3 linked regions of the Homo sapiens genome follow. The protein of the gene in region 1 interacts with the protein of each later gene in a biochemical or structural test. Each region holds a gene or a part of one and is shown on either strand. Other genes may lie near its edges.

Region 1 (8,084 bases):
GGAATTCTGCACCTTCAGCACCCGCATGCGGCCTGCAGGGAGCAGCGAGGACGAACATCAGCATGGAAAGAACAGGCCCGTGAGTCGGATGACGGGGAGAGGGCACCGACGCCAGTGTTTTTAACTTTGGGTTCAAGCAAGTGCAGATGTGTTGAAGGCGCCTCTGCTTAAAGAGGGCCCTGCAACGTCTGCGCTTTCTTCTGTGGCCGCTCGGCTGCCAACTAATAACACGGTGAAAGGCCTGTAATTCTTACTCACCCTCTGGAGACACCACAGACAGCTCTAACTACAGCAAAACTAATTCCAGGACGTCAGCGCTGCCCTGCCATCCCCGCCACGTCTGTCCCAGGGTCACCGAAATGGCCCAACCATGACCTCAGCTGAGGGTGCGAGGGGCTGTGGCCCTCCCCTGGAGTAGAGGGGAGAACCTACCATTGACCACAGGCTGCATGAAACTCACAGACACGCCCAGTCTGTCAGGAACCTTCCCCAGCTCTCTGCTTTTGTTCCAACAACCAGGGGCACAATGATGCAAGAGGCTAAATTTGATTTTAATGAGAGCAGCCTTGGGTGGGGAGAGAGGAAGGAGGCAGCACTCTCTCCAGCCCAGGCTCCCATGGAGGACCCGCCGCCCACGCAGCCTGTCCTCACATCTCTGGGGTCAAGGGACCGTTCTGGAGGAGGGACAGACCCTCCGTCTGCCTGCTGGGCTGGAGGGAAACGCGGAACTTGTCCTAGCTCGAATTCACCTAAAGCTGAGGTGCTTTCTGCCGAAGCTCTGTCCTGCGGTGGACACGGGGGCGGGGTGGGGGGCTAGGATACACTTCCTGGCCACTCGCTGCTCTGGGCGGCCGTCTCTCCCTGCCGAGAGCCACAGCCCAGGCCAATGCTCTGGTTCTCAAATTTCCAAGCATTTCCTTGAACCTGACCAGCAGGCAAGGCTCAGAGGCTTCCAAACAGCCAGTGTGTTTAGACAGAAGACACTGGGCCTGGACATTTCAGGGAAGAAGGGACTTTCAACCAGATCTTTTGGAAGGCTGGTCTCCCCCTCTGCTGCTGGGGTAACCTTCGGCAGGTAGTTACTTATTCTGGCCTTGTCGTGGTTAATGTTCCACTGCTTCGGTGTAGCATCTGCTTGTTTTGATCTGTGTGGCGGAGGGAGGGGCCGGGGGGTGGGGAAAGGGCTTAGCCAGGACAGTTTAAAGAGAGGTTCCTGCCGTGGCTTCTCGCCCTTTATCGAGCCATCATCTCTTTGCAGCCAGCACACCCACCGCCCTTGCTGGCTGGGCCGCCTTGTTGCACCTCACGGCTGCCAGCAAGCCCCTCTGATAATTCTGCTCCAGCCACTGGGTTTAAAAGACTCAATAGGCACATCCAGACCTTCTCCAAGGTGCCCACCCAGAGCACCCTCGCCAAGTGTCTGAAAGCCCAGCGGCAGCCTGGCTCCTTCCCTCACCAACTCATTCATTCATTGCCTGACCCCATTTCCCAAGCTGGTGACCACGGCTGGTCAGGACTCGCTTCTAAAGGGCGCGGGGTCTGGCTTCCTCACCAGCAGCCACAGGGCACAGCTCCCGGACCAGCCGGCAGCCCCTCCCAAGGAGGAGGTTATTCTGGAGACAAAGGCAGCGCCCTGAGGTAGGCGGCTGCCTCCTCCCGCACCACACTCCCTGCCCGGCCTCTTCCATGGGGGGCGGCCCTCTGGGGCCCCTGAACCTCTCTACACCATGCCTTGGGCTCACGGCTCCCTTGGGGGTGGGCACCTGCCAGCCCCCACTCACCAGTCCGGGTTCTCCGCCGCTTTGGGGCTGAGCCTGGTGTCGCTGTTCACATTGAACAGGACGTCCTCCTCCGTGAGCGGCGGAACCGCCACCCGGTAAAGCGGGTGCTCGAACAGCCTGGCCAGGAGGGAGGCGTCTCCGCCGGGGCCGGGGGGCGACTCGGACCGACGCGGGCCGGGGTCTCGCAGCAGCGGCCGGTGCGCGGGGTCGTGGGGTCTTAGGGCGCCGGGATCCCGCCCCCGCAAGGCGCGCTCGGCCGGCTCGGCCGCGGGCGGCAGTTTCTCCAGCGAGTGGGACGAGAGGTTGGAGGAGGGGTCGGAGCTGAAGTCCTGCAGGATGCGGAGCGTGTGCTTGTTGGGCCAGCCCGCGTCGCCGGCGGCGGAGGAGGCGGCCGGGGGCTCCCCGGGGCGGCCCCGAACCTGGGCCCAGCCGGGCGCGGCCACCTCGGCGGCGGGCTGCGCGCACGAACAGCCGGGCTCCCCCGAGGGCCGCGCGCCGCGTCGCTCCAGCCTGGGCAGCAGGTCCAGGGCGATGTGCAGCGCGCAGGCCACCAGGAACACCATCAGGATGAGCACGCGGAACCGGCGCACCAGCATCATCTTCATGGCCGCGCGGGCCGGCCCGGGCCTGGAGCGCGTTCTGCCCGCGCGCCCCTCTAGCTGCAGCTGGGCACGAGCGCGGCGCCGCCTCGCGGGTCAAGGTCCATCGGTGCCGGGCGGCTACCAGCTCCGGGGCTGTCCCCGGGCCCGGGCCGCGTGCAGGGCGCCCGCCGCCGGAGCGCTGGGTCCCCGCGCCATCTCGGGCCCGTCCCCGCTCGGCCTCTCCGGAGCGGCCGCGCCCTCAGCCGGGGAGCCCAGGGGTCCTGGTCCGCGGAGCCGGGCGCGCGGGGGGCGGCTGGGGCCGCAGCAGGGGGAGGCTCGGCGCTCGCAGCCGCCGGCGCGGGGCTCATCGGGCGTGTGGGTCCATCCCGGCCGGGGCGCGACGGGCCTGGGCGGTGGCGGCGGCCGCAGGCGTCCCGATCCTCAGCGCGCTCCTCTCCAGGCGCCGGGCGGGCGGGCGGGGAAGGGGCGGCTCCTCCGGGCCGGGCTCTGCTCTCACGCCGCGCCCGGGAGACCGGGGCTGGGGGGAAGGGGGGGGCGAAGGGCGGAAGGGGTGGGCGCGGGGAGCGGCCGGCGGGGTCCCGGGCAGGTGCAGCGGCCGCCCCGAGCGCAGCTCCCGCCTGGCCGAGCCTCTCGGCGCCCCGCGTCCCGGGCGGGCAGATATCGAGCGCCGCGGAGCCGCCCCCCGCGTCAGCGCCCACAGATTGGCGGAGCCGCCGCCCCACGAGTCACGGCTGGGCCCGGGCCGGCTGCGCTCCCGCTCTCCTTCCTCCTCCCCTCGGCCGCGCCCCGCGACGCCTCTGAGCTCCGGGCCCGCTAAGGAGAGGGCTCCTCCTGCCCGCGGTTTGCAGAGGGAAGCGGCGGAGACCGGGAGGGCGCGCTCGGTTCTGGCCAGGCCAGCAGCTGCGGCCGAGTGGGGGGCTCCGGCCTGGCCGCTTCCTGGGACCCCCTCCCGCCCGGGGCCGCCGCCGCCAGCTGCAGCCTCTCGGCTCCTCCCCAGAGGAGCGCGGGGCCGGGGCCCAGGCCAAGTCCCTCCCCGGAGCCGCGGGGCGTCTGCGCCGCCGGATGAGCTCCCCGCCGGGCGGCGACCCCGTGCCCCACGCCCGTCTCGGCAAGGAGGAGGCGGAGGCGGCCCCGCGAGAGAGGCCCAAGGAGCGACTGGGCCTGGACCCAGGGGACGCCAGGGCAGCGGAGCTCCCGGCACCGGTCCCGTCCCCCCCCCCCCGCCCACCCGCGGGACGCGCCCGCCTTAACCCTCCAGGCGCCGGGCCCGCTGGGGGCGCTGAGAGGGGCTGGTGTGCCGGGGGCGCCTTCCTGCTTGGGGCCGACGGGGGTGTGTGAGTGCAGGCGTGTGCGTGTGTGTGCGCATGTGTGTGTGTGGATGTGCGTGTGCGTGTGTATGCCTGTGTGTGTTTGTGTGTGCGTCTGTGTGCATGTGTGTGTGCACATGCATGTGTGTTCACGTGAGTGCATCTCATCTGTCACCCACAACCAGGGGAGCGGTGCTTGTACAACCAGCTGGTGGCTTCTGCAACCAGCAGCTTCTGGCCGTGCAGCTCCCTGTAGGGAATATGAGTTAATCTGGATGTCAGCCTAAGATGTAGTCAGGGAGGTAAGTGTGTGGGAGGAGGCCACATCCCCTGTGCCTCAAGCCGGCTGCTTCCACAGTGCCCAGACTGCCTGGGCCAGCAGCCTCGCCAGCAAGCCCAGGCGGGTGGGCCGGGAGCAGGGCCTGGGCCCCCCCTCTTACTTTCACCGGCTGGCTGTGTTACCAGGGCCCTCTCCGCCCTCTCTGAGCCTCAGTTTCCTCTGATGTGAATTAAGGGCGTTGAGCCCATTGTTCCTGAGGAATCACTCATCTCTGAGCCTGGCCCATTGCCTGGCATTCCGTGGGCACCCACTAGATACTTATAAGGGGAGAAGTTGTTCCAGTCCGGCTGGCCAGTGGAATCCATGCGTCTTGGGCCATTTGAAGTGAGTGAAGGGCTGGGTGCGGCCCACCTGGAGCTGGACTGGAGGCTGTGTTGGGTGGGGCGGTGTGACCTGGAGGTGGGCTGCCCCCTCAGGAGACAGCTTCACCCCTGTGAGTGGACCTCATCCTTCCTTCCTTCCACTCACATGGACAGCACATCTGTGTGTAGACAGGGTCACTGAGAGAGGCCAAGGAGGGTGAGGAGGAAGATCCCGGGTGTGGGGGGAGTCCTGGGGGAGCAGACAGCAGGGACAGAAGCCTGTGGCAGGAAGGAAGGTCTTGGCCTGTGTTCTCCCAGCAAGGGTCCCCTTGGACTTGGAGTTCTATAGGCTCCTGGCCCCCCCATCTCTCCCGTGGTCTACAGGACCTCGACGCAGAGCTGTGGCTAGTGTCTTGGGGCAGACATGGGGCTGAGCAGACCCCATGGAACACTATTATCCGGTGTGGGGGGCCTCATGGAGGTTCCCTGGGCACTTACTTTCACTTGCCTCCTGCCCCCAACTCCTCTCCCCTCCCATCCTCACCCCCAGAGTGGTTTTTGGGAGCCCGGCAGCTATCTGGACCCGTGTGCACCCCTGGACGCCTCCCTCCCTCGCAGAGGGTCCTGGTTCATCTCGTCTGTTGCCTCTTAGAACAGTGGCCTCTACCTCGCCAGGTCCTTCAGAAGCGCCCCCCTCCCTGCCCCGCCACTGTTTTCCCAACAGCACCCGCCGTGGTCTGAGGACACTTTCTTCTGCTCCTGTTTATTGTTTATCTCCCCCAAGCACAAGCAGTCGAGTTAAGACAGGAGCCTCGTTCAAAGTTCCGCCCGGGGCCAGGCACAGCGCAGGCTCTCAGAGGAGGGCCCAGGAGTCCACAGGCTGCGGCGGCGCGAGACAAAAGTCGGAAGACAGGACCCCGCTGAGGAGTGAGGAGACAGCGGCCAACCCTCCGCCAGACCCTTCCGCCTGGTGCCTTTACTGGGCTCTGAGGAGGAATTTGGTGGTTCAGTCGGCCCATCCGTGGACACCATAAAAACAAAGAGAAAACAGACACACACAGATGCACACATAGATACACACAGATACACACAGACACGGATATATAGACACACACAGATACACACACGTGGACACAGACACACACATAGACACAGATATATAGACACACACAGATACACACACGTGGACACAAACACACACAGACATACCCATAGTTACGGATATATGCATGGATACACAATACACAGACACACAGATGATACATGCATAGACAGATATATGGACACACACACACGGACACACAGATACACACATAGACACATAGACAGACACAGATACAGACACAGGCACATGTAGACACACATGGACATACAATACTCAGATGAACACAGAGATAATATACACATAGACACAGATCTATAGATACACAAAGACATACACACAGATATACATAGATGCACACATAGACACAGATACACATGTCATCACACATGGACACACACAGACACACACCAATACACACATAGACATACGAAGACACAGGTACACAGACACGTATACACACAGACACGCATATATACATACAGACGCAGATATACACACAGACACAGACATACACACACACACAGACACAGATATACACAGATACATGGACAGATACACATTCACATACACACATAGATACACAGAAACACACAGACACACAGACACATAGAGACACACACACAGCCACACAGGCCCTGAGCCTCCCTGGGCCCTCCCTTGTGCAGAGGCGGAGGGGCTGGCTGTCGGGGAGGGCACCTGGAGAGGACACACAGCCCCATCAGAGACCAGGGAGTGGCTCTGGGAGCTCTTTTCGTCCAAAGGGGCTGGAGCTCCAGTTAGCCAAGGTGAGCGCCAGGTGGTGACAGGAATGACATAGGAAAATAAGACGGCCCGGGCAGGGAGGGCTGCCTGCTCTGGGTGTGAGGGGATTGCTGTCTTAGACCACGTGGCCCAGGAAGGCCTCCAGGCATGGCTTTGCACAGAAGCTGGTACCTGAGGGCTCAGCCCCGTGGAGGCCTGCGGGGTGGAAATGCCAAGGCTGGGGCAGGGGCATGTCTGACCCTCTGCGGGGAGAGAAGGCCTGTGAGGTGGGCATTGTGTGAGGGGCCAAGTGGCCTCTGTAAGGTCTGCAGGTGGGGCCAGGCTGTGGGCTGCGTCCTGAGTGAGGGGGCCGTGGGAAGGCTGGGGACAGAGGGACGACGCTGGGTCTTGGGTCGGGAGAGGCTCACCTAGGGGCCGGGTGGATGGGTCTAAGGAGGGCTAAGGGCGGGGCAGGGAGAGCAGCTGTGTGGTGAGGACGAAGGGAGGTCGGCCAGAGCCCCCGGGGAAGGGCTGTTGTCATGTGGATGAGCTGGGAATTAGGAAAGCTTGTGGATTGCGAGGCCTCAGTATGCAAAGCCCTGGGACAGACGGGCCCCCCAGGAATGAGGGGGGCAGACGGGCTCCCCAGGAATGAGGGGGGCAGACGGGCTCCCCAGGAATGAGGGGGACAGATGGGATCCCCAGGAATGAGGGGGGACAGATGGGTCCCCCAGGAATGGGGGGGGCAGACAGGCTCCCCAGGAATGAGGGGGGCAGACGGGCTCCCCAGGAATGAGGGGGGCAGACGGGCTTCCCAGGAATGAGGGGGACAGATGGGCTCCCCAGGATAAGGGGGGACAGAAGACCCCAGGCCTGAGGACCAGGCCTGCCCCCTGGCACCACCAGACACCAGGAGGGCACTGCTGCTCTTAATTGAAAGTCTTGGTGCAGGTGAGGGCGTGGAGGATTCCTGGGGGAAGCTTCGTGCTGCAAGGTGGAAAAGACAGATAACAAGAGAAAAACAGAAGCTTAATAGCATGTATACCTTGGTCTGCAAGGGACGGACTCGGGACAGGCTATGTCGCAAAGGCGTGGCTTGGAGCTCAGCCTTAAAGACCATGTTCGACGGAAACAAAGAGAAAGAGTGTGTGGGGAGGGGCCCAAGAAATTACCCCAAACTGGGGTCAGGCCTTCTCCATGGATGAGCGTCTCCGGTGACTTACAGGCGGCCTTCTGGCCCAGAGAGGGGGCACCCTGGTGAGCGCAGATGCCTGTACGGATGTGACTTTCTCTCATAGAACAGCAGCTTCCACTCTTGTTTTCAGAATTTCTCCTGTGGTTGCAGTTTCTCAAAATAAGCAGCTCAAAATAATGCTTATGCCAAAGAGGCATATTTTGGGGTGGCATATTCTGGTCTGCTCTACGTGGAAGCGGACAGAAAAATGGGGCAGAGGCCAGGGAGGGGAGCGGGACCGACTTCCAGTTCCCAGACCCGAGCAAGGGAACCTGAGGCCGAGCTCTGGAGCTTGGGGTCTGGAAGGGGTTCTCTGAGGACACTCTGGGAGTGGGGGAACAGCTGCCTCCTCAGGTTTCCCCCAAGGGATCCTGCCTGGGGAGACCTGGACTGGGCAAGGCTTGGCAGCTGCCCTGCCAGGAGGAGGGAGACGGCTGCAGTGGGGGGGTGCAGGGTCGCTGGGGTCCCACCCGGGGGTGCTGGGACCGGCCAGAGGACACTGCGATTTCCCAATGGGCCAGGAAGGAAGGAGGCGCTTTCCAGGCAGAGCATGACCCCGCACAGGAGGCAGAGACAGAGTCTCTGAGTGTCCCCGTCAGGTCCCTGGGACTGTGGCAGGGGAAGAAGCCGCAGTACCTCCTGCCCTTTAGGACAGGAGAGGTTGTCGTCCCA
Region 2 (7,685 bases), on another chromosome or scaffold:
GCCAACATGGCGAAACCGCGTCTCTACAAAAATACAAAAATTAGCTGGGCGTGGTGACACGTGCCTGTAATCCCAGCTACTTGGGAGGCTGAGGCAGGAGAATCGCTTGAACCCAGAAGGAGGAGGTGGCAGTGAGCTGAGATCTCAGCATTGCACTCCAGCCCGGGCAACAGAGCCAGACTGTAAAAAAAAAAAAAAAAAAAAGAATAGAGGGAAAGGCATTACAAATGTGTAGCAAATACTCTGGGTAGGAAAGAGGTTAGCTGTGTAGACAGGAAGAGTGATTGTGCATGTATGTGTGTATGTGGTGGTTAGCTTGTTGAGAATTTGGGGGAATCGTGAGAGCAGGACCTTCTTCCCCACTATTTGCCAGTGCATAAATAACACATCCTGGATTGAGCCACAGAACAAAGTGTACTTTGCTTTCCATCTGCTCTAAGTCATGACTTAAAGAATATTTACACGAATGTATACAGATAGGGGATACATTTCCCATGCAGAATTAATAGGAGAAGAACATCTGATTTGACAGGCAATGAGTTGGCAATAATAAGCAATTGTTCTGTTCCTCAGAGTGGACCCAATTGATTCAGGTGTGGATCATTATAGGTTCAAAGAATGCCAATGTGTTAGACTGATAGTGAATGACTGAGGCTCATCCCAACGTCAGTATCATATAAAGGTAAGCTAGGGTGGCACCCTCAATTTTTCTTTCATTTAAAATTCATCTTGCGTGATGGAACAGAGACTATTTTTATTTGTGGAATTAAGGTTTTCATCATTATAATCAGTTTTCAACCTCTTTCTCCATTTCCATTCTCTTTCTCTAAAACACTTTAAGAAGACCAAGTAGCTAACCTTTTCTTTCAAGGAATTAAAATACTCTAAAGTTCATTTGAGGCCAACTGTGAGCTACTGGAGACAAGAGATCATGTCTTATTTACTTTCATTTTTCCATGTCTTATTTACTGGATGCATGGCAGCTGCTCAACATATTTGCTAAATGCATATAGCAGCCAAATAAAGTTTTTGTGATAACAGAATTGCATGCTGTTGGCTGGAGTAGTTCAGTGTTCAAAAGATTGTGTTTGTATGAGATCATTTCAATATATACTAGAATGGATCAGGTGTGGGACTGTAATACACAATTAGCCCCATCACTATGATATGTTTTGATTTATGAAACTTCAGCTCTCAGTCACACAATTTCATGTTTACAAGGTAAATTTGCTAGTTAATTACTAGCTTTAAATGGAATTATCTAGCTGAGTTTTGTAACCATAGAAATTTAGAGATAGTTCTTTTTGAAATGAAGAAAATGTATTTTTTTCAAAGAAATTTCCTCTTTCCATTTCAACTTTATAATGATAGCAATAAGTTGATAATAAAATTTCGCCATGCATTGTGGAGACTATCTAAGCTTTTAACTTTGAATGAGTGGAATAAGATCTAGAAATTGTCTTGGGACTATTTTAAATAACTTTTTAGTAGAAATATCATACTTCACTTACTGCTTTTTTTTTTTTTTTTTAAATGGAGTCTCACTCCGTCACCCAGGCTGGAGTGTAGTGGCACAATCTTGGCTTACTGCAACCTCCGCCTCCCAGGTTCAAGCAATTCTCCTGCCTCAGCCTCCCAAGTAGCTGGGATTACAGGTGCCCACCACCACGCCTGGCTAATTTTTGTATTTTTAGTAGAGACAGGGTTTAGCCATGTTGGCTAGGCTGGTCTCAAGCTCCTCACCTCAGGTCATCCTCCTGCCTCAACCTCCCAAAGTGCTGGGATTACAGGCGTGAGCCACCGCACCCGGCTATCACTTACCGCTTTTGGATTGCAAGACTGACATCTGAGCAACTATGGCTTTTGACTCAATAGGACTAAACCACTGGATTAAATCAAGTGAGTCTATGCGTGGACTCTCAGTCCATATCCCTTCAGTGTTGTTTGGAGTTCGACAATCAATAACCTTTTCTGGGACACACTCTAAAGACTGACTTACCGGCACTGCAAAACTCATTTCCAGGAGGCATAGGATCAGTATCAGGTCCTTCATTTTGAAAAGTGGAATCTAAAACATAATTAAGTTGGAGAATTAAATCAGATGAATTTTTATTCAGAATGGTTAAAAGACAATTTTTGAAAATGAGCCTGAGTCTCTGCTCTTACAAAAACCACCGGGATAAAGGTTAGAAGAACAAAAACAAAAACTAAATGTTACTAAACAACCGATTTGTATGTAGTAGTTTCTGAAATAAATTAACAAGCAATTAAAAAATATCTAAGCACGTTTTAAATGGATCTACAGCCTAAATAAGTATGTAGGAACAACCTCCATCGATATTCTTTGTGATATATTTCATTTCATAAAGTGAATTATGAGTTTAAAAATCCTTCCCACTAAGTAAAATATTGGTCTATAAGGTATTATTCACAGAAGTTTATACTTTGCTTACCCTTTGGGACACATTTTGAAATGCATGTGAAATGTAATGCAACTAAGTCATTTTATAACAAACCTTTATTTGCAGGAATAGAGGGTACATCATTGCATGTTTAGGTAATCTACGTAACCATGACAAAATTTTTCTTTTCAAATGAGAGTAAATTGGCTATCTTAATTTTCTTTGATGTTAGTGGAAAATATGTCTCAAATTTAGCTTTCCTCTTCCTAAAATGAATTATCTTTTAAAATTTATTCTATAAATTCAAAAAGCTCTTTATTCTTACATGAATAGAGATCTGAATAGCCTAGAAATTTACTCATCTTCTAATATTAAAAAGAATTAGGCACTATAATCAAAAACATTAAAAAAAACACAATCTATAAATAAAAGTCTTTTTTTTTTTCTTAGTTGAATGGGTGTTAGGCATGTCATCTCTGGGACATGCTAATGGATTACAACAAGCAATAATTCAGCTACTGGTGACAAATGAAGATAAATCCTCTTTATAAAAGCTGTCAGGAGATAGGAAAAAAAGAATTTACAGGAAACACATGGAAATCATAAAATCCCATTTTACCTTAGATGCTGACATGCACTGTGCTCTCAGGGCCTGATGATGCCAACCAAGATAGTTCTAAGAAAAGAAGATTAAAATTTTTTTCAGGACTGTGCGTGGGACTTGCTCTGTACTTCTCATTCAGGGAAGATTAGAAACCTTTATTTAAAGTGCCAATCCACCAATCAAAGTGAAGCAAAATGGCGAGGGGTGGCGGGGGGGAGTTGGGGCGGGAATCTCTGCTCCTGCAATTAGTCCACACCCTTTTATTGCGTGCAGGGACATTGGCCCAGTAGGGTCTCATTATTTTTAATTGTACTGCAGCCCCTGTACTTATTCAGAGAACTTGATAGCAGGGAAGGCAGTAAAGGAATAATGGACATAGGCTCTGAAGACAATTATTTTGGTGAGCTGGGGAAAATATATGTAAAATAGGTGCAAAACAAAACCTGTTTTGTGCAGGTTTTATCTGCAGATAAAGCTAGTGACCCAATGCTAGCATTCTTCAGGTTTTCACCCTCCTGTTTGTTGTAGTAAAAGAGACTACTGTCCTTCCCCCCAGCACACACAGAGTTTAAAAGAAAACACTAAAATGTTAGATGGAAAATTAATGTGTGTGATTTCTTCCTTGAATTTCCTAGATATTTTCATATCTGGAGATAATTGATTAGAGATAGCCAAGCTTTTGTAAGAAACTACAGTTGGACCCTTTGCAAGAATCAGGTTTACTTCAGGTAAACGTTTGGTGCATTTTAAAAAAAATCTGTGGGGACGGGGACGTAAATCAGAACATTCTCTATGAACCAAATCAATGGGCACAAGTGTCAGTTCACTCTTCAGATAGACACATTCCCAGGCATTAGTATCAAGCCAGGTTAATAAGACATATTTCGATCACTTAAAAGGTTAACGTCAACACAGATTGGTTTTTCTCCGTGAACAGATAATATCTTGGATGTGGATTGAATATTAGCTGCTTTTGTTACTTCTCTGCCCATCCTTGTCTTTCCAAAGTTGTGATTTCAGATATGGTAGGGATAAGCATTTAAGATTAGTTCTGAAGAAGGGATGAGTCAGTACACTCTTTAGGGAAGTAGGGATCTTGTCAATTACAGGGAACATTGAGGAAGCTGGTATTTTGAGAGAAAGCTGTATCCATACCCAAATGTAGGCCTAACAGCTTCAAATAATGTTATCTTAGAAGCTGCTCCTGAAAACCTCTGTGTTCCACTGATACCAGAATTATCTTTAGGATGCAAAGAAATGAAGAATGTGAATGTGTTTTGCAAACAGCAAAATGTTATTGAAATGAAAAGTATTATTTTTCATGCTGTCTCTGGTGCTTGATGCAGTCCCTTAATCTCTTTTGAGCCCCAGTTCCTTCTTCTGTTATGTAAGGATAATAATTAATGACCACAAGCTAGTCTTTTTTTTTTTTGAGACGGAGTCTCGCTGTGTTGCCCAGGCTGGAGTGCAGTGGTGTGATCTCAGCTCACTACAACCTCCGCCTCCTGGGTTCAGGCGACTCTACTGCCTCAGCCTCCTGAGCAGCTACGATTACAGGCCTGCGCCACCATGCCCGGCTAACTTTTTTTGTATTTTTAGTAGAGACAGGGTTTCCCCATGTTGGCCAGGTTGGTCTGAAACTACCGACCTCAGGTGATCCTCCTGTGTTGGCATCCCAAAGTGCTGGGATTACAGGCGTGAGCCACCACGCCCAGCCTGAGCTTGTCTTAAAGATTGGTGAGATGGTGAAGATGCAGCAGCTGCCATTTATTGGGTGCTGAATGAATGAGTTGATTGTCCTTTTGGTAGGAGAAACTACATGAAATATGAGACCACAAGAACTGTGTGTGTGTGTGTGTGTGTGTGTGTGTGTGTGTGTGTGCTGGAGGAGGAGGAGTGCTGGCAGCTAGGTTCATAAGCTCCAAGGAGGTAGAGGAGGGACCTGATGGAGGACATTTTCTCTGTGGAAGTTGATGCTGAATCCATAGGAACGAGCTTCCTAGTTGGCTAAAAAACTGGCAAATAGTGTGTATGTGTGTGTCTTGTAAAGTTTATAAGCGTGATCATGACACACTAATAATGATGTTTTGGTAGGATTCTTATGTTCTGCTTTGCTTTTGAGCCAAATATCCAATATATCATACACACTGTTGCTTCTTCCTTTTTTAAATGTCACACTCCATTCTGGCTTACTGACTTCCAGATGTTTATCTGGTAGTTTATTTCTCCTCCAATATCCTGCACACCAACACTAGACTTATCTTCCTAAAATACTGGTTTTGGCATTTCACTGCCCCACTCAAAAACTATGTAAGGATCTCTAAGGCTGTCATAAAGTTCACCCTCTGTAACTAGACAGTCAATTGAACATTTCAGTTCCTCTTTCCAATCTTGTTTCCCACTTTGCATGAGACAGTGTGTATTCATATTGTAATAATGATTGTAATCAATTGGAGTTGGTTTCATTTTTTCAGCTAATAAACAGTTTTTTGTCAGATTTTATGGGATGTATGTTACTGGGAAAGTTGGTAAATGTAATACTAATATATCCTACAAAAAATTTTCTATTACAATGAAATCTGGAAATTAGTATGAATGTATGAATGAGTTTCTGACAGTGATTATAGATATAAGGAAATTACCATAGCTGATGGAAACCATGTTATGTTGGCCAAGACCATACCTGTATGAAGAAGAATCAGAGAGTCAGTTATAAGAAAATACTTGTGTCTGGAGTACAGCAAAATAAAAAAAAATCTCAAAGTGACAAAAGATGTGAGACACATGAAGAGACATAGGCCATAGAAAAAGTTACAATGAAAAATTTAGAGCAACAAGATCTGGCAGAATATGTTAGTAAAGTGGTTGAGAGCACAGCTGTTTAAATCCCCTCTGTAATACTCACTGGTCATATGACATTGAATGAGCCACTATATAATCTTCATGTAGTTTTTTTTTTTAAAGTTTTTTGAGACGGAGTCTCACTCTGTCATCCAGGCTGGAATGCAGTGGCACGATCTTGGCTCACTGCAACCTCCGCTTCCCAGGTTCCTGCAATTCTCATGCCTCAGCCTCCTGAGTAGCTGGGACTAAGGGCACGCGCCGCCATACCCAGATAATTTTTGTATTTTTAGTAGAGACAGGGTTTCACCATGTTGGGCAGGCTGGTCTGTAACTCCTAGCCTCAAGCGATCTGCCCACCTTGGCCTCCCAAAGTGTTGGGATTACAGGCATGAGCCACTGCACCTGGCCTCCATGTTTTCACTTTATATAAATACATATATTTTATATATATATACACATACACATATATTTTATATATATGTATATATGTATGTATATATGCATATATATGTATATATACATTTTATATATGTATATATGTTATATATGTATATATGTATAAATGTATATATATTTTATATATACATGTATATATAGTATATTTTATATATTATATATACACATATTTTATATATGTGTATATATACATACATATATAACATATATACATATATAACATATACATACATACATAACATATATACATATATGTTATATATGTATATATGTATGTGTATATATTTTATATATGTGTATATATAGTATGTTTTCTATATGTATATATGTGTGTATATATACATATGTTTTATATATATACACATTATATATATATATATAGAGAGAGAGAGAGAGAGAGAGAGAGAGAGAGACAGAGTCTTGGCTCACTGCAACCTTCACCTCCTGGGTTCAAGTGAGTCTTCTGTCTCAGGCTGTCGAGTAGCTGAGATTACAGGCATCCACCACCATGCCCAGCTAATTTTTTGTATTTTTAGTAGAGACGAGGTTTCACCATGTTGGCCTGGCTGGTCACGAACTGCTGACCTCAGGTGATCCACCCACCTCGGCCTCCCAATGTGCTGGGATTACAGGCATGAGCCACTGTGCCCAAGCTCATATAACATTTTTATCTGTGAAATGTGGTCTACCGTAGGTCAGCATTAATTTAATTTAAATACGAAATATAAGGTGCTTAGCACACTAGCTGGTAGCCAAGAAATGTTCAGTGATCATGAGTTATTATCATTCTTGTGGAAATGAAATATGAAGGCTAAAAATCTGCTTCATATTAAAATACTTTCTCAGCTTTATTGAGGTATAATTGATATACAATAATTGCACATATTTAATGTATACATCTTGATGAGTTTAGACATACGCATATACCCTTGATATCAGCATTACAACTAAGGTAATAAACATATGCATTACCTCCAAAAATTTCCTTGTGTTCTTTTGTATGTGTGCTTTTTTATTAAGTAGTAAGAACATTGAACAAGAAATCTGTCCTCTTAACAGATTTTTAAGTGCACAATATAGTATTGTTAACTATGGGCATATTGTACAGCAGATCTCTAGAACTTATTCATCTTGCATAACAGAAATTTTATACTCATTGAAGAACAATTCTCCATTTCTCCCTCCCCCCAGCCTCTGGCAACCACTATTCTTTGCTTCTGTGAGTCTGGCTATTTTAGATACCTCATGTAAGTGGAATCATGCAGTGTCTGTCCTTTTGTGACTGGCTTATTTCACCTGGCATAATGTCTTCTGGGTTCATCCACGTTGTCACAAATGGCAGGACTTTCTTCTTTCTAAGGCTGAATAATATTCCATTG
Region 3 (8,165 bases), on another chromosome or scaffold:
CGTTCCCCTTGGGACCCTGGGATAACCGAAGTGGGTCAGGCCCTGACTATATTTATCATATAGAGCAAAAGGAAAGTGTGGAACTGAAGGACTCAATCAGGGTTTCGACCGGTCAGCTTGGGAGAGAAAGATCTGCTACTCAGGAGGAATAGAAGTCTGCTCTTTTGGAGGTCCTGAGTTATTCGGGTTGGCTGCCCACACACCACATGACGGATTTCTACATACTTTGTGTCTCATTTTCCTAGTAGGTGAAATGACTTCTGAAATGTATAATTGGGGGTTCCTGCCCCTGCCTCTCATGCAGTGGGCTTTGGAGACTGAGTTCTGGGTGGCCAGACACAGCGTGTCCCCTTACAAGGTGTTTATCGTTTATTATGACATTGGTCTCCAGTCCACCCTGCCTGTGTAGACACAGCTTATGAGTGCAGAAGGGAGACACTGGCATAATGTTTTATACCTAGACTGTCGCTTGCAAGCACTAAAACACACCACAAGGAACAGCAAAGGAAGTTGGTTAACAAGGCTTTCCAATGAACGTTTCAATCATGTATGCTCACCCCAAACATTCTTCATGCTCTGGATGGATTTTTACCTGGGCATCAAATTTTCCAGCGTTGTGCAGAAAAGTCATGCAAATCCCATGTAAGCCCCGAATCTCACAAGAGTTGTTCTCGAAACATTCAAACACGCCACACCCCACATCGCCAGCGTTGACCAAACAGTGCTGGATCTCCGCTAAAAGGAAAATCACATACAAATATATACAAAACTCTAACCCATGCTGGGCAATGCAGAGAGGTCATTTGAAATAAAAGTTAACAACTAAAGGAAAATTTAAGGAGGAAAAAAGACTTAGTAATGACTATTTCAGGACCTAAAAAGCCTGGGAAACAAAATTTCGTCCTTTAATCTACTCATGAAAAATATCTCTATTTGTAAATATTTGTAGAAAAGAGCCGAAAAATTACAAAAATTACAACCAGAAGGCTGGTCTGAGCATTCCTCCTTTTCATCCTTTCCATTTTATTAAAGTATTTGTGGGAATACTTAGTTTGAGAGCAAAATATATTTCCGCTTTTTAAACCCACAGACAAAAATAAAATTTTGAGTCGAAGACTGTACTTCATCAATGAAGTACCCTTCTCTACTTGATCTGTAGAAGTTGCTGCTATTAAATCACAGCCATTTGCTTCCTGACCCCCAAATGACAGCATCTAAAAAGCAGTTTCAATTCAGCTTTATGATTCAACACCTAAAAATCAAAACAAAATTCCTATTAAGGCAGTGCCTCCCAACCCTTCGCATTAAAATACCAGCTAGGGAAGCTGCGGTTGGCGAGCAGGCTTAGGAGTGGAGTCAGCTGGGGGCGAGCCTTCAGAAACGCCACTATCAGAGGTTGCAGGCTCCTTTTAATTAGGGATCCGGGTGAGGTATCACCCAATCCCCTAGAATTCCCGCAGCCCGGGAGGAAGCTTGCAGCCCTTCACCGAATGTGGCCCCCAGTCCTCTCTCGGAAGGGGCAGACGGAGGGAGTTAACTGTCAGGCTGCAGCGTGCAAAGCCTCTTCCCTCCCTTTCCACTACCCAAGTCTCTGATTTAAATCAACCACAAAATTACATCAGAAAAGTATATTTTGGAAGAAGGGCGGGGTCGGAGCAGATAACCCGCATCAGATTAAATCTAGCCAGAGAATGAGGGGCGTGTATTGTTGAGGGTCACCGACCACCGAGAATCAGGTTCAGTTCTCAGAGGAAGCGCCAGAGGAGGGGGAGGGTGGGCGAGGGTCTCGGGGTGGTGGGGGTGCCGGCCCCAGCATGTGGAGGCGACAGGATCCGTAAGACCCCACGCGCCGCCGGGGCAGGACCGCACAGGGCCGCCATTCACTCACTTGGGGCGTCCCTAATGGGCACTCGTGCATTCCAGCTCGTGCGGTGAGCGCACGCACGCCGCCGCTGCCGCGTTCACACGGCCCCCCAAAGTCGGGGGAGGGGTCGTGGAGCGAAGGAGCTGTAGGCAGATTTTCTTTCTCTTTCCGAGCTGGGAAAAGGGCCAGCCCCGTGCCCTGCACGCCTGGCTCTGCTTTGCAGCTTGCCGGTGAGCCAAGAGCCGGTAGAGCAGAGGAGGCGCACGGTTCGGGTCGTGTCACCATTTCTTGGCTTGCTGACCTGGCCAGGAGCTGGGGATGGCGGCAGCACCGCGGAGGTACGCTTTGCGCTGCCCTCACGCTCCCTTCCGAAAGCAGTGCCCCCAGGGGGAAAGTTCGCAATGCCATTTGTCTCGCCGGCAAAGTTCTGGGATGTCGGGCATCTTTTGAGGAGGGGGAAGACGCGGCACCCTTACTGAGGCCGGCAGGCCAGGAAGAGAAGTTCTCCGGGCGCAGGGCGCAGCCCAGCTCCGGGGACCCTCTGGGCCTCCCGCGTGCCGGCCGGGATGAAGCGCGCTTTGCACCGGACCCGGGATTCGGGGGCGGGGGCTGGCGCTGGCAGCGTCAGACGCTGCTTCATTTCCCCTCGACCCTGGGGAGGACAGCAACAAGTCCTGCCCCAGCCATTTCATCACCCTGCTAGCACGTGCAGATTCCGGGCCCTCGGAGCCCGGCGCGGACCTCGCCTTGCCTCGCGCTTCCCTTTGCACGTCCCGTGCCATCCCAAGAGTTTGCGTGGCCCTGGGTGGGCGCCTGGCTCCCGGCGAAACGCCTGGGGCGCGCCGCGTGGGTGCACGGTGTCCTCTCCCAGTAGCTCCCGGCTGCGGGGGCACATGCACTTACCTGTATTCTGCAGGGACAGGCGGCCTTTCTGCTGGGAGCTCCTGTCTTGGGGACCCTCGGGTGGGTTGGTGGCGTCGGTCCCCCGCGCCGGGTCAAAGGTGGCCAACACCAAAGCCAGGGTCATGAACTGGCCCAGCCGCTCGGCACACATGGTTCTTGGTATTAACCTCCCGTCGGGAGACCTGGATCCTTTGTGCTCCCCTCTTCCTCCTCCTCCTCTTCCTCCTTCGCCGCTTCCCCTCCTCCTCCCACTCTTCCTTTTTGCTCGCCTTTTCCCTCCTCCTCGCGGCCGCGGCTCGGATAGAGGTTACCCAGCGCCCTCCCGTAGCTCTCCGGAGAGCATGTGACCAGGCCGTTAGCAGCGCCGCGAGTGCCCGGCAATGGCAGGGATGGTGCCTCAAATATCCCTGGAAGCTCTGGTGTCACTTGAATGAAGGAGTCGAGCAGGTGTTGTCCCGGCGGCTGGACCAATCCGAGACCCCGGCCCTTTTGACAACACGGCCGGGAGGCGGGGCCTGCGCTCAACTACTACAGGAGGAAGCCGAGCGCCGCTGGGAGCGCCGGACAAAGTTGCCGACCTGGCGGCGGCCACGCGTTTGCGTGCGTGTGTATGAGTGTGTGTGAGCGCGGCCGGAGATGCGTGCGCGTGTGCGGGTGCTCCAGGGCAATGGTCGAAAGGACTGTACAATATAAGAGCGAATCCAAGCTCCAGTTGCTGTTAAAGGGGGACGGTGTGCTCTGGGACAGTGTCCCTGGGGCCCCTGGCTCGCGTCACACCCACATCGGGTTGGGAAAGTTTCCTCTTTCCGCCGTTTGGAATTCAGTGAGATTCCCAGCCCAGAGGACTTGATAAATTGAAGCAGTTTCCTAGGCACAATGATGCTGTGGGCCAACTGAGCACACATGGGAATTCCTGGCCTTGTGACACTTTGCATTAAAAAGAACCCCACGATTGAAGATAGGAGCAGAAGCACTAGATACAGTATTTGGTCTGAGCAACTGCCCTATCTTCCCGCTTTGGTGGGCCGTGCAACACCTGGAGTGTCGTTTCTCGTCTTTCCCCTAATCCAGACGCATTCCAGGCTGGGCTGCAGGGATCCAGGTGACAGTCAGGACTTGCATCATTTCCAGGAGGGTGGCAGGGAGGCCCAAGGCAGCCCTGAGTCAGCCCGCCGCGGAGCATCGCGTGCCCGGAGGCCAGAGCTTGAAAGGCAACTTTACGCGTCTCCAAACACACTCCTGCATTTTCTCAAAGCGCTGCTCGCCACCCCGCTCCGGGTTCCCTTTTACTCTCCAGTCATCCGATGGAAGTGGTGAGAACAAAAACAAAGACAAAAAAGCTAAATCCGGGGAAGTTATCTCCATCTCCTCCCTTTTCTTGTTCGGCCCCCTCCCCAAGAACCGCCGGGTCGGGATAGCCCCCGGCTACTTTCTCACCCGGCCCGTGGAGGGAAGGAGAAAGTTGGGCGCCGCTTGGAGCGCCTCTTCCCCTGCTGTGTGTGTACGTGTGCACGCTCACGTCTCCCCCGCGCCGGGGCCGGGGACAGGAACTGCTCTCGGTCCCGTCACCCCACGGCGCAGCTCGGGGGGCTCGCAGGGCTGGGGGAGGGCGGGGACACGAGCGCCGCGCCCAAGCGCCCCAGGGCACGCACCCGGCGTTGGCGCGCACTCGCCCCTCCCCCCGTCCCCACCCTCCTCCTGGAGAACAGGTGAGCCCCGGTACCAGCTCTCGATCCCCCACCCCCGCCCCGCGCCCCGCCCGCGCCCTCTGCGGTAATGCGCCTGGGAAGTTTCATCACCCACTGCCCAGGCGACGCGGCCCTGGGTCTCCGCGGCGGGGCGCACTGCCCGCCTGGTTGGGGCCGCCATGTGACACGGCTGGGGGAGGGGGCGAGGAGACACGCGGGCAGGTCATCTTTTGGCCGGCGCTTGACTTCCAAAGCTTTCCTTTCCCGTGTCCCGGCTGCACGCGGGAGTGGGGAAGGCGGAGGCGGGGGGCCAGGATGGCCACGGCTGGCCGCAGCTATCCGGCGTGTCGAGCTCTCCTGAGTCGGAAGGAAGGAGAGGAGGGGGTGGGGAGGGCGTCTTCAGAGTGGGCTTCCCCTGCGCTGGAGCGCCAGGGAGCATCCATAAATTGTCACTTTGAAGGTCCGAACCTGCGGCGGTAGGGACCATGCCCACTATTCTAATAGCAATTACTCCGCGCAGCCTTGGATCTTTTGTGCAAGGACGTGCGGGTACAAATACATTAAAACGGCCAGTTCACATTGCCCACCCTGCTTGTGTTTGCATAGTTAACTTAGCTTCCTAGTTTATGGAAAACTACCTCCTGTAGATCCTTAAAAACAAAGCAAACAAACGACACAGCGGCATTCTGGCCTCTCCTAACTAACTCTTTAAGGCTCTGAATTTCCTGAGAACAAGTAGCCATTTGGTCCCACTCCTGCTTATGGGTACAGCTGGGTAGACTTTCTTTCTATGTGGCCTCTTTTGTAGGAGAGAACATGAGCAATATTGACATTAAGAAGGCATCTGGTCACCTGTTTTTTTTTGAGAAGCAGAAATAGGAGAGAGCTCCATGGGGCAGGAGCAAGCCCTCTTTTGCCAGATGCAGACACTTAGTGTGCTGGGCAGAGGCCTCCCAGGATACCTGGAGCGATGGCCAGGGGGATGGAGCTCTCCCTGCTCCTGCTTTGCCCAGCCTTTGGCTAGGCCTACCTTTTGCTACCATGGGGCCCCTGGGGCTGCCCTCAGAGGACCTACATAGTTTCAAAGTTCGTCCTGAGGCTGTTTGCTCCTGCCTTCCAAGGGACATTCCTGGTTTTCACCTGAGCCAACTGCCCCTTTAGAACCAAAAGAACACATAGTAGCTAGAATTGGAGGTGGCGTAAGCACAGGCACTAGTTCTTAAGGGTTTATCTCTGGGCCACTTAGCCAAGTCCAAAGCATCCAGATAAGAATGCCCATCTGAGTCCGACCCGCCAAGGCTGTGAAAATTCCCTTGCAGAATCACTAGGCAGTTTGCTGAAATGGCCAGTCTAGGCCGCAGGGGTAGAAGTGGGATGGGGGCTCAGACTGGTGACTTTGTTGTGATTGACTCCCCCTCTCTCTGGCTGATTCCTTTAGCTTTATAACTGAGGCCAAGTTTGGCAGACTGTGGCTGATGAGGGTGGGGCAGGGGACAGTAATAATAATCATTATTACTATTATATAGCTAACATGACACCGCACCACACACCACACTCATGCCTTTGGTGTCCCTCCAGACCTAGGGCCCTCCCTAGATGGGAACTGAGGCCTGGGAGGTCTCCTGGATGGACCAGCTGCTGTCCTGAGGTTCAGCAGCACCTGTCTGGATGGGCCCTCCTCCTCAATTTAACGCATACACAGCCAGGAAGAGGCAGACATGACCTACCTTGTGTCATCCAGGGCCTTCTGTGGTTGACGCCTGGAGCCCATGTTTTCCTGTCTAAATCCACTTTGCTAGTTACATGCGGTCAACACTGAGTGGCAGGTTTTGGGGGAGGGGATATTTGGGTTAGACCATGAAGGATGGGGGAGGATAGTGACAAGTAGAGGCAAGGAAAAAAGTGGGCATGGGAGGTGGGAGGACCAGCAGGGCTAAATGCATGGAGAGGATCCGGTGGGATTTGTATCAGGAATAGGGGTTGCCCAGTTAGGTGTGAAAGTGGGACATCAAACTGGGGAAGTCGGCCAGGGCATGTTGTGAAGGCTGGGCTCCTTGTGACAAATCTGTGCTCCTCACGGAAGATCTGACGGTATTTAAGGATGAGACTGTAGGGCGCTTTAGACTAGGTTCTCTTTAGGAATTAGGAAATGCTCAGGGGCCCAGAGCTGCCATTGTGGAGAAAGAGCAGAGGAGTGGGAAGGAATTAGTTGGAATCTTCACGTGCGTCTCGATGCCCAGCAAGACAGACGTGTTCTTGCTCGAGTGTGAGCCGAAGGGGCTTTAGCGGATGGGCATAGTTCGTGGGTGCTGAGTCAGTGATGTGCAAGTTGACACGTGCTGCCTGGTCCAGGCTTTCTGAGTTCCGGAACCTGAGTGGAGAACATGGCTTACACGTGGGGAGCTCCACCCACTGCACGCCCCGCCCCCTTGGGGCCGACTGTCTGGGCTGATGGCACCACCTTATGGTCAGAGAGGGAACTGTCTGGCTACACAGTCCTCACGACTCTGCCTGCCTGGAAAGTTCTGATATTGGGTCTCCAGCCTTCTCCCCAGTTTCCTTTCCTTTTCTTAGCAAATCAATTAATGCAGATTTAGCCAATCTCCTCGCAATAACATGCCTTAATCCCCCCATCAAAGAGATCTCTTTCACACTTATTTTCCCTCTTGCTCCCCTATCCGTTGCTGTTTTCCTTTGTGAGTCTCAAATTTACCCTAATCCTGGCTCCTGTGCATCATACCTGTATGAAGGAAAATGAAAAAAGGTATCAAGGTGAAACCGGACAGAAAAAAATAACAAACTGCTGCTATCAGGCCTCCCAAATTATCTTGCAAGCAGAGGTCTCTCCCTAAAAAGCCTCCATCTCCCAGCACTTTGGGAGGCTGAGGTAGGTAGATCGCTTGAGCCCGGGAATTCGAGACCAACCTGGGCAACATGGCAAGACCCCGTCTCTACAGAAAATACAAACATTAGCCAGACGTGGTGGTATGTGCTTGTAATCGCAGCTACTCGGGAGACTGAGGTTCTGGGAGAATGGCTTGAGTCCAGGAGGTTGAGGCTGCAGTGAGCTATGATTGCACCACTGTACTCCAGCCTGGGTGACAGAGCAAGACCCTGTCTCAAAAAAAAAAAAGCCTCTATCTTTGCTCTTATCTTTTTTTCATTAAACTGGTTATTTCATTAAATATAATTCAGGATAAAGGAGATTATATCTTCAATATTTGGGTTTGTTTATTCTTAATACTATAACCAAATTATATTCTACTAATTTATACCATAAAAGTGCAGTGCCCAACAACACAATGAGTTAAGAAGGATTTTGTGGTGCTGGCCTGTAAACCTATCATGTATAATATTGTTTCTTGGAAGAAAATATATTCTGAGTTCCCCAAACAACCAACTTTGGAAGTGTGGGAACACAACGCTTTTGTGAATTGGGCATTTCCTCTCTGTCACAGATCAATAGTCAAACCATTCATGGATTGACTGGAAATACAAAAGAAAAAAAAGCATTAAAAAAACCCCCAAGAGAGTAGGAACACAATAAACCCATTTACTGGAAGGAATATAAAGTAGTAAACACTGGGCATCTGACTGTAGTCTGAGTTTTGTTAACGCCTTTCTCTGAAGCCTGAATGGTATTCCAGAAGGCCTCTCTGTTTTACATGGGTCATAATTTTTTCTTCCTTGTTGTATCTTGAGACAAACTC

Evidence for each region. The genes of interacting proteins can lie anywhere in the genome.
Region 2: of the proteins of FAM20C (region 1) and AMBN, one has a biochemical effect on the other in vitro, tested with the Homo sapiens proteins (one study listed by IntAct).
Region 3: of the proteins of FAM20C (region 1) and STC2, one has a biochemical effect on the other in vitro, tested with the Homo sapiens proteins (one study listed by IntAct).

The regions. Positions count from the first base shown.
Region 1 is NC_000007.14:187,502-195,585, reverse strand, and holds the start of FAM20C (extracellular serine/threonine protein kinase FAM20C precursor), read right to left. Parts: upstream 3,016-8,084; 5' UTR 2,387-3,015; coding exon 1,782-2,386; intron 33-1,781; coding exon 1-32. UniProt on the Homo sapiens protein: Golgi serine/threonine protein kinase that phosphorylates secretory pathway proteins within Ser-x-Glu/pSer motifs and plays a key role in biomineralization of bones and teeth.
Region 2 is NC_000004.12:70,587,710-70,595,394, reverse strand, and holds the start of AMBN (ameloblastin precursor), read right to left. Parts: upstream 3,140-7,685; 5' UTR 3,037-3,139; coding exon 3,022-3,036; intron 2,069-3,021; coding exon 2,000-2,068; intron 1-1,999. UniProt on the Homo sapiens protein: Involved in the mineralization and structural organization of enamel.
Region 3 is NC_000005.10:173,325,276-173,333,440, forward strand, and holds the start of STC2 (stanniocalcin-2 precursor), read right to left. Parts: upstream 3,140-8,165; 5' UTR 2,919-3,139; coding exon 2,768-2,918; intron 736-2,767; coding exon 593-735; intron 1-592. UniProt on the Homo sapiens protein: Has an anti-hypocalcemic action on calcium and phosphate homeostasis.